Regions from separate parts of the Homo sapiens genome. Here region 2 is linked to region 1. A link means that fine-mapping ties the variant in region 1 to the plasma level of a protein whose gene starts in the linked region. Region 1 holds a variant in brackets. A gene starts in the other region. All regions are shown on their forward strands.

Region 1 (5,365 bases):
CTCCTCAGAGGTCCAGAACTGATTTCAAAGAAGATAGAAATGACTTCAGGGTGAGACAGTCAGTGAATCGTAGCTGAGTGAATGGATGGGGGATTTCAATAGGTAGACAGCCTGGTACTTAGAAAAGGCATTAGCCTTTATACTTTCTGGTGTGGAAAAGAAAGAAAGAAAATACATACCTTGTACATTTTTTTTTCTTTGAGACAGAGTTTTGCTCTTGTTGCCCAGGCTGGAGTGCAATCGGCTCACGGCAACCTCTGCCTCCCGGGTTCAAGTGATTCTCCTGCCTCAGCCTCCCGAGTAGCTGGGATTACAGGCACACGCTACCGCACCCGGCTAATTTTATATTTTTAGCAGAGACAGGGTTCCTTCATGTTGCTTAGACTGGTCTGAAACTCCCGACGTCAGGTGATCCACCCGCCTTGGCCTTCCAAAGTGCTGGGATTACAGATGTGAGCCACCGCGCCCGGCCTCGTTTTGTTTCTTTGAGACGGGGTCTTGTTTTGTTGCCCAGGCTGGAGTGCTGTGATGCGATCTCAGCTCACTGCAACCTCTACTTCCCAGGTTCAGGTGATTCTTATACCTCAGCTTCCCGAGTAGCTGGAATTACAGGCACCCGCCACCACGCCCAGCTGATTTTTATATTTTTCGTAGAGATGGGATTTCACCATGTTGGCCAGGCTGATCTCAAACTCCTGACCTCAAATGATCTGCCCGCCTTGACCTCTCCAAGTGCTGGGATTACAGGCTTGAGCCACCCCACTGTGCCCAGCAGGGCTCATACATACTCATTACTAAGCAAGAAAGAATGAAAAGAATGAAAATAAATGAATTAAACATTGAATTCATGTAATTGGGAAAAGGACATCAAAATAACCCATGGAAAGCAGAGGAAGGGATGAAGTAAACAACATAAATGAAAGGATGAGAAAACTTGAACAGAACTAACTAAAGAATGAGCAAGTCTGGACAAGTACAACTTATGCAATACTAGAAAATCTGAAGGTGTGGAGAAAGTACTTCTAATCTCCAAAGCTGGGAACATAGGAGGTTTCAGCTCCAAAAGAAACCAGAAAGAAAATCCTGGGGAAATTTGGTTTAGAAAAAAAAAATGTTCAAACAAACAAAAATAGCTGAGGAATCATCCTGTCATTGCGGGGATGAAAAGCTGAGTGTCGTGGTCATATTAACAGGCCCGCAAAACACCAATCAACTTTGGCTTTGCAAAAGGTTGTTGATTACAAATGAGTAACTGCCAGTCTGTGAAATCTCCTGGCAACTGTGCCTGGCATAGTCTTTTCGCCATTCACAGGCCTTTGTATGGATCTGTTCCTCACTGCCTACCTTGTTCCAACTGAAAAACACTGAGGTCAAATTCATTCAAATTCTAATTTAATGACCAAGTGTTTATACAGATTAGTTTGAAGCAAATAAAGCCCAGATGAGTGCTTTGCACATAGTAGGCACTCAGTAGGGTTTTGTTGATTAAATACTAAGAATTACTGTTTTGTCACTTTTGTTTGTTTGTTTTTGAGACGGAGTCTCTCTGTCACCCAGGCTGGTGCAGTGGCGAGATATTGGCTCACTGCAACCTCTGCCTCCTGGATTCAAGAGATTCTCTTGCTTCAGCCTCCCAAGTAACTGGGACTACAGGCCTGCACCACCATGCCCCGCTAATTTTTGTATTTTTAGTAGCGGTTTTGCCATTTTGGCCAGGCTGGTCTTGAACTCCTGACCTCAAATGATCCTCCTGCTTTGGCCTGCCAAAGTTCTGGGATTACAGGCATGAGCCACCATGCCCGGCCTTTGTCACATTTGAAGACTGAAATGTTTAAGTCTTCAATGTACAACTCTACAATGTACAACTGAGGGGGAAATGATAGGCATGTGTCATGGGTTGAATTGTATTCCCCCAGGAGATATATTGAAGTCCTAATCCCCAGTACCTCAGAAGATGACCTTACTTACACATAGGGTCTTTGCAGACATAAGTAGTTAAGATCAGGTCATAGTGGAAGATGGTCAGCTCTTAATCCAATATGACCTGAAAACATAGCAGGAGAATGCCATGTGACGATGGAAGCAGATATTGGGCTTATACAGCTACAAGCCGAGGAACACCAAAGATTGCTAGGGACACTAGAAGCCAAGAGAAAGACACAAAGCTGATTCTCCCCTAGGATCCTTGGGAGAGAATAACCCTGCCCTTACCTTGGCTATGAATTGTAGTCACTAGAACTGTGAGAGAATAACTTTCTATTGTTTCAAGCCCCCTAGTTTGTGGTAATTTGTTACTGTAGCTCTAGGGAACTAA[T/C]ACAGCTTGTTTCCAAGAAACATGTATATGTGTTTGTATGTTGCTTCACACTATGTGTTACCTAGGTGAGAACAAAAGAATAGGAGGGTTCATGTTTGAGAAATAATTACTAGGATTGTAGTGATTGTAGTAAGACAAAGAGAAGGAAGGTACATCAGTTATCCACTACTATAAAAATCCACTCCAGGCCAGGTGTGGTGGCTCACACCTGTAATCCCAGCACTTTGGGAGGCCAAGACGGGAGGATCACTAGAGTCCAGGAGTTTGAGACCAGCCTAGGCAACATAATGACACCCCCTCCTCTACAAAAAAAAAAAAAAAAAAGAAGAAGAAGAAGAACATTAGCCAGTGTGGTGGTGTGCACCTGTGGTCCCAACTATTTGGGAAGCTGAGGTGGGAGGATTGCTTGAGCCTGGAAGGTTGAGGCTGTAGTGAGCTGTGATCACACCACTGTACTCCAGCCTGGGCAACAGAGCAAGACCCTGTCTCAATAAATAAATGAATATCCTGGCCGGATGTGTTGGCTCACACCTGTAATCCCAGCACTTTGGGAAGCCAAGATGAGCGGATCACTTAAGGTCAGGAATTCGAGACCAGCCTGGCCAACATGGTGAAACCCCCATCTCTACTAAAAATACAAAAAATAGCTGGGTGGGATGGCATGTGCCTGTAGTCCCAGCTACTTGGGAAGCTGAGGCATAAGAATCACTTGAACACTTGAACCCGGGAGGCAGAGGTTGCAGTGAGCCAAGATCACGCCATTGCACTGCAGCCTGGGTGACAGAGTGAGACTCTGTCTCAATAAACAAACAAACAAACAAACAAAAATTAGCTAGGCGTGGTGGTGCACACCTGTAATCCCAACTACTCAAGAAGCCGTGGCAGGAAAATCACTTGAACCCGGGAAATGGAGGTTGCAGTGAGCCGAGATCGCACCATTGCACTCCAGCCTGGGTGATAGAGTGAGACTCTGTCTCGAAAATAAATAAATAAATAAAATATCTGGGGGAAGAATGTTCTAGAGAGAAAAAGAACAAACGCAAAGCCCCTGAGGGAGGAGCGTGCTTGAGTTTCCAAAGAAGCCATTCTGCCTGGAACAGAGAGAGCAAGAAATGAAAGTTATTCAACAAGAAAGCTCAGGGAGGTAGTGAGGGTCCAGACCTTACAGGGCCTAACAAACCACTGTGGCAAATGGTATTGTCTGAAGATGGCCACGACGCCCACTCCCAGTCCATGAGCTTATCTTCGACACTTCTCCCATCAAGAGGTGAGGTCCCTGTCCCCTCCACCTTTAACTGAATAGGCTTCTGTGACTGTTTTGACCAATTGAGCATGGTGGAAGTGATATTATGTGACTTCCAAGGCTAAGTCATAAAAGACAAAGCAGCTTCTGATTTGTTCACCAGGACACTCATTTTGGAAGCCTATAGCTGCCACATGGGGAATCTGACTGCCCTGAGGCCAACAGGCTGTAAGGAAGTCCAGATTAGCCCACATGGAGAAACCACTTAGGAACGTCCTGAGATGACATGGAGAGAGTAGTGCTTTATTCCCTGGGTGTCCCAACTCTAGCCATCTAACTGCACTTGCGTGAGACACCTCAAGCCAAAACTATCCAGCTGAGCCCTTCCTAAGTTCCTGAACCACAGAAGCCATGGGAGAAAATAAAGTGATCATGGTGGTTTTAAGTAATAATGCAAGTGAGAGAGGATGATGACTTAAGCTTGCATGGTATAGGTGATGAGAGCTAGTTGGATTCTGAATACAAATATTCATTTCCTAGAAATAATCTCAAACTTATAGAAAAGTTGCAAATACAGTACAAAGATTCTTTTTTTCTGAGCCATTTGAGATGCCCCATCATTCTTGAATACTTTCATGTATGTTTCCTACAATGACATTTTTGCATAACCACACTATAACTTTTAAAATAAGAAAAAAATCACATGACTAACATTTAATCAGACCTTATTCAGTTTTCCCCAAATGTTCCACTAATGTTCTTTATAACAGAAGTTATGAAATCATACAGTAAATTTTAGTTGTGTGATTTTCAAGATCACACATTGCATTCAGTTTCCATGTCTTTATTCTCTTTCAGTTCTCTTTCAATCTGGAGTAATTCCGTAGTCTTTCCTTGACTTTTATGACTTTGACACTCTTTGTTCATTGTTTTGTTTTCTTTTTTAACTTCCCATACTATGCCAGTGTAATGACCTTGACACTCTTGAAGATTATGGGAAGGTTATGTTGTAGAACACCCTCTCTTTGAGTTTATCTGATGTTCTCTCATGATTCTATTCAGCTTATTCATCTTTGGTAGATAATATTACAGAAGTAGTGCTGTGATTTTGTTATGTTCTATCAGATGGCATATGATTTTAATGTGTTGCATTATTGATGATGCTAACTTTGATCACCCAGTTAAGGTGGTGTCTGCAGGATCTCTCCACTATGAAATTACTCTTTTTCCATTTGTAATTAACAAGTATTCTAGGCCCGGCACGGTGGCTCACGCCTATAATCCCAGCACTTTGGGAGGCTGAGGAGGGAGGATTGCTTGAGCTCAGGAGTTTAAGACCAGCTGGGCAACAATTCAAAAAAAATTAGCTGGGCATGGTGGCCCAGCCTATATTCTTAGCCTCTCAGGGAGTGGGTTGAGTGGGGTGCTGAGGTGGGAAGATCACTTGAGCCCAGGAGGTGGAGGCTGCAGGGAGCTATGATCGTACCACTGCACTAGAGCCTGGGCAACGGTGTGAGACCCTGTCTTTAAAAAAAAAAAAAGTATTCTGTAAGAGGGTAGTTGAAGTTCAGACTTTGTAAATACCTTATCTTTCATCAAACTTTTAATTTACTCACTATCTTACATTTATTTATATGGTTTCTTATTTTATTAAATTGGTTGTAAGCCATTGTCATTATTATTTATTTTGATGTTCAAATCATTTAAGATTTGGCTAATGGAATCTCCTTCGTGTTAGCTAGCATCTGTGTCCTTTTGGCATGTCCCCATTACTCTTTGTGCACTTCTTTACTTTCTGGCATAAGAAG
Region 2 (5,341 bases), not on the chromosome of region 1:
CAGAGTTTCTCCATGTTGGTCAGGCTGGTCTCGAACTCCTGACCTCAGGTGATCCACCCACCTCGGCCTCCCAAAGTGCTGGGATTACAGGCGTGAGCCACCATGCCCAGCGCCTCCTATGCTTTCATTCAAAGGAAGTAAAAGCAAGAGAAAGCAAGTCCAGGGAAGTAAAGCAAGGAAACGAAATCAGCCGGGCACAGTGGCTCACGCCTGTAATCCTAGCACTTTGGGAGGCCAAGGCAGGTGGATCAGGAGTTCCAGATCAGCCTGGCCAACATGGTGAAACCCTGTGTCTGGTAAAGATACAAAAATTAGTCAGGCGTGGTGGTGGGTGCCTGTAGTCCCAGCTTCTTGGGAGGCTGAGGCAGGAGAACTGCTTGAACCAGGGAGGCGGAGGTTGCAGTGAGCCAAGATTGTGCCACTATACTCCAGCCTGGGTGACAGAGCCAGACTCTGCCTCAAAAAAAGAAATCAAAGCTAAAAAGACTGGAATAGAAGAAACAAAATGGTCATTACTTGCAGATGATAGGATTGTGTACGCAGAAAATCAAAAAGAATCCACAAAGAGAACCCAAACATAATTATTAGACTTAATATGAGAGTTTACAAGGTTACTTGATACATAGAAATCCATTGTTTTTCTATGTACCAGCAACACACAGTCTGAATGGGAATTCAAAAGAAGGTAGCCAGGCGCAGTGGCTCACAGGCTCACGGGCCAGCACTTTGGGAAGCCAAGGCGGGAGGGCCGCTTGAGTCCAGGAGTTTGAGACCAGCCTGGGCAACATAGCGAGACCCTGTCTCTACAAAAAAATTACAAAATTAGCCAGGCACTGTGGCGCCTGCCTGTAGTCCCAGGTGTTTGGGAGGCTAAGGTGGGAGGATCACTTGAGCCCAGGAGGCTTCAGTGAGCCATGATTGCGCCAATGCACCCCAGCCTGCACGACAGAGCGAGACCCCGTCTCAAAAAAAGAAATCAGATTGATAAATGCTATGATATTAAAATTAAGACTTTCTGTTTATCACATGATACATCAGCAAACTGAGAAGACAAGTAACAGGTAGGCCGAAGACATACACCCCAGGGATTGGTGTGGAAAATACAGAACACCTGCAAAGTGTAAGCCAAGACATGCACGGGCATTTGACAGAAGAAATGAAAAGTGCTGCAATATGGCCGGTGGTCAAGGAATGCCGATTCAAAACCCAGCAGGGCACCATTTCACACCCACTGTATGCGCAGAAACTCTCAAGTCTGCTCTCTGGTGTACGTGAAGACGTGGTGCAGCAGTGGCAGTGGGGGTGTCCGCTGGGATGCCAGCATGGAGAGCTACGTCTTCAGCCCAGCAAACGTGAAGCCCACGTCCCACTGACCCAACGAGTCCCCTTCCAGCATTGAGAAGCCTGGCACACAGCAAGGAGACGACACCAGATCAGTTGACGCTGCCTTCCCATCCCTTGGTGAGGGGACCCGGCCATTGCAGGATAAATCCAGCACGACTCCCCTGACATAAGATGTTCCGGTTCCCCAAACCAGCCTAGATCCTTTCTGGTTACACCAGCTTCAGACCAGGGGCTGCCATAGCCACGCCTCTTATCTGCTCAGAAAGCGTAGAAGGTGCATATGCAGGCCATATACACACATATTTATGAAAATGGTGCTGCCTGTGGATGGATTTATTTTCTTTTTTCTTTCTTTCTTTTCTTTTTTTTTTAAAGACAGAGTCTTGCACTGTCACCCAGGCTAGAGTGCAATGGCACCATCACGGCTCACTGCAGGCACCAACTCCCAGGCTCAGGCGATCCTCCCACTTCAGCCTCCCAAGTAGCTGGGACTACAGGCTCGCACCACCATGCCTGGCTAATTTTTAAATTTTTTTATAGAGATGGGGGTCTCACTATGTTGCCCATGCTGGTCTAGAACTCCTGGGCCCAAGTGATCCTGCTGCCTTAGGCTCCCAAAGTGCTGGGATTACAGGCGGGAGCCACGACGCCCAGCCTGATTTATTTTCTTCTGTGGAAAGGAAGGAGAAACCCATTCCCCATGCCAGATTGCAGGCGTCTGTCTCATCCGGGGCCAGCAAGGACATGTGTGTGTGTGTTGGGGTAGGCATGGGGGGAAGGACAGGGAGAGGGAGAGAGGCCAGCTGGCTCCCCCAAGCCTCCCCTCCTGGAGCTTCTAAATCCCTCCCTGGCTCCTTCAAGGCTGCCTGGCCTTCCTGTTGGGGAGAGACCCCTCGCCGGCTGCTCACTCGCTTTTTGGTGGTCCTTCCCACGGGCCTGCCTGGTCTGCCTCCACATCCTCAGCGGCTGCAGGTGAGAAGCTGTGGATCTGGGGCCCAGTGGTCCAGAGCGTGGCCCGTGCCAGAATGCCCAGGTTCAAATCCCATCTCTGTGGAATGCACTCTGAAGAAACGACGTCAGGTCATGGCCCTGGGCAAGTTACCCACCTCTGTGCCCCATTTCTCTCCATGCAGGTTGGAAAGAATGACACAGCTGCTCAGGGAAGCACCCATACCCCGAGTCTGCTGGGCCTTTGAGCTCCAGGGCCAACACCTGGCCCTATACCCTGGCCGCCCCCAGGGCTCCAGCCACCTGAGCCAAGCTTCTCACCCCCAGGCCTCCCCAGCCCCATCACCATTTCCTCCTCCCTCATGGGCCCCTCAGTCTTACCGTCCTCCCACTTCCGCCAGCCCCTCTGTGGATGGCCCTGCCACAGGGGGAACAGTGCCCCAGCAGAAAAGCCCCAGGGTCGCCTGGATTCTCCTGCCTTCGCCTCCTGCCCTGGGTCCAACGCACAGTCTTCAGAATGCTGCCTCCCCAGAGCGCCTCTAGAACGCGCCCGCCTCTCTCCATGCCCATGACCACCACTGGACCAGGCCTCCCCACATTCTCTGCCCCAGTGCCACCAGCTTGCAGTTGCCCATGGCGAGACAAGTTCAAGTTCTCAAGCCTGGCCACAAAGACCCCACCTGATTTGCTGACCTCCGCCACACCCTGGGAGACGGCCCTTGACCAACCTTGTGTTCCAGTCGGTGGGAAACACTGGTTTTTCCTCAACGCCACGTGGGCATGTCACGTCCAGGCCTGGCCTGGGGTAGGCCTCAGCTCCATCTCCTGCCCAACGCCTGCCAAGGTTCATGGTTCAAGGTCATGTAGCCTGACGGTTAAGTGAAGGGGCCCTGTGATTGACTCAGCCTTGCCACATACTAGCTGTGTGACTTTATTCAAGTTTCCTAACCTCCTGTGCCTCAGTTTCCCAACCTGTGTTTGTTTCTGGATGGTGCCAGTGCCAAGCCCAAGCCTGGCATCCAGTAGGTGCTTCGTGCCAGGTTATGGAATGCCCACCCAATAGGAGGGCGCTGCCGTCTCTCACCTGCCAGGTGCCCACGGTCAGTACTCCATCATGCCCGCTGCGGCCAGCAGAGGGCAGCAACATCCTGCCCTGTGCCATTGGGCAAAGGGGCGGGCGGAGAGAGGCTGGGCTGCCTGGCCGGGCTTGTTGGGATGAGTCGGACTGGGCACGATTGCATTGTGGGGAGGGAGGCTGGGGCTCTGTGAGACGTGCTCCTGGCACCGCCAGCTGCTACTTGGCCCTCGCCGGTGGCCCACCAGGTAGGCAAGAGCTGGGGCAGGCTTGGGCTTGGGCTTGGGGTGCAGGGGCTACCAGCCTCAGGGCAAGGCATCAGGGTCTCAGGGCCAACTGGCTGGGGTCAGGCAAGAGCGCTCGGGTGTCGGCCCAGCCTGACGACGGCACTAGGTGTCTGGGAGCACGGTGTCCCCCAAGTGGTAGCCCTGGGGTTAGGAGGTGGGGAACCATGTTTCTTCCCCGAAATGGGAAAGCCAACGCCAGCCTCGGGCAGGGTACAGGGTAGAGAGGCTGCCCGCCTGGCTCCCCACCCCCACAGCCACCCAACTGGCCCAGCCAGGTGACAGCAGCCCACTGCCACCTTGCCCTGGAGCCTACTGCTGCCGTGCTGTGGGGGAGGCAGAGACCCCATCCCCAGTGCACCTGCTCCTGTGCCACTGGCCAGGGTGGCCTGTGAGGGTGACAGGGGGTCTAGCTGCTAGGTGCCCCTCCCTTCCCCATCCCCTGCATGGATGGCATCTAGGCCAGCAGGACGGTGCTTCAGAGGGTGGGGTGGACAGCCCCGGCCTGTGGACCCTCTGCCTCAGCCCATCTCAAGCAGCCTCCTCCCGTGGTCCTGCTCGCTGCCACCATGCTGTACCTGGCACCACTTCACCAGTCCCCAGGGGCAGGGCTGGGCTGGGGGTGTGGAGGAAGATCTTTTGGACAAAGGCAGGCATTGAGGGCCAGGACTGGCACTTCACCCAGGCCCCAAGGCTACCAGCCGGCATTTGCAGGGGCTCCAAGGTCCACCCCGTGCCCTTCACAGGGACCCGGGGAGCCAGGGAGGGGCATGCTTAGTGACACAGGGGTTGCAGGGCCAGAGGGGGAGGGCTGGCTGGAGGAAACCCCGGCCCTTTGTCCCCGGATCCCGGGGGTGGCTCCCTGAGGGTGGGAAGTGGCAAGGAGCCCCCTGTCCAGAACAGCCCAGTGGGGGTGACAGCACTAGCGAGTGGGGCCCTGGCCTGGCCTCTGGACAGAGGGAACATTGTTGTGGTGGAGGCAGGGCTGCCTTGGCCTGGCCACTATTGACAAAGCTGCCAGCTGTGAGGGAGCCCGGTCGCTAGGCCCTGGGCGCCACCCCCACCGCCGCCCCTCCTTCCCCAGGCCAGCTCGAATGGGGCTGAGCCTCGACTGTCTCCCTCCCACTCAGGACAATGCCCCCCCGCAGCCATCTCATGCCCATCGCCACTGCCCTGGGGCAGCTGAACTGAGCGTATGTGCCACGCCGCCCAGGAGACCCCTCTGCTGCACCACTTCATGGTAAGTGCCCAGGCCCGGTGTCCCCAGAAATGTTCCTGGGAGGGGCAGGGTAGGGCAGGATGGCTGTGGCCAGGCCCAGGACATACAGGCTGCAGCCTCCCTCATGGCAGACACTGCCCCAGATAGCCCGGGGTCCGCAGGAAGTGTCCGTGCTCTTCCTGCCTGTGTTCCTGAGATAAGCGGCTCCTGGGCCTTCCTCCAGGCGCTGCTCTGCCCTGAGTCGCAGCGGCCCCACTCCTGGTCGGCATGTGACCACACACCCAGGGCAGCATCTCTCTGTGGAGGGCAGGAGGGGCCAGAGAAGGGGCTGCTCCCACCTCTCACCCTCGGGGGCTCACCCCGGGGTCCCACCAGGCACACCCAGGAACCATCTCCAGTCTGGCACCCCTCCCTGCCCCTTCCCTGACCCCTCCCCCAGCCAGCTCTCCTGGTCTGCTCTTCTCCTGGGAC

Direction of the effects. Positions count from the first base shown, and alleles are read on the strand shown. Strength reflects both the effect of a copy and how common the allele is.
With allele T in place of C in region 1, the plasma level of the protein whose gene starts at base 3,560 in region 2 is lower (weak association).

The links. A credible set is the group of variants that fine-mapping cannot tell apart. PIP is the posterior inclusion probability: the model's chance that the variant is causal. The UK Biobank Pharma Proteomics Project read protein levels with antibody pairs (Olink). The fine-mapping took linkage between variants from a reference panel, not from the people measured, so its PIPs are less certain.
Region 2: PLXNB3 starts here. The variant in region 1 is the best candidate, but not a certain one, in a credible set for the plasma level of the PLXNB3 protein (UK Biobank, PIP 0.56).

The regions. Positions count from the first base shown.
Region 1 is chr9:4,742,429-4,747,793 of GRCh38, forward strand. No RefSeq gene overlaps it. Among named protein-coding and RNA genes, the nearest start is that of AK3, 3.9 kb to the left of the region's middle. The variant T/C (reference allele first, on the strand shown) is at 2,315.
Region 2 is chrX:153,760,690-153,766,030 of GRCh38, forward strand. PLXNB3 (plexin B3) reads left to right here and starts at 3,560. Exons shown (of 36, transcript NM_005393.3): 1 at 3,560-3,615; 2 at 4,782-4,891. The coding sequence starts at 4,847. It overlaps PLXNB3-AS1 (PLXNB3 antisense RNA 1), which reads right to left. Exons shown (of 3, transcript NR_199696.1): 2 at 3,021-3,160.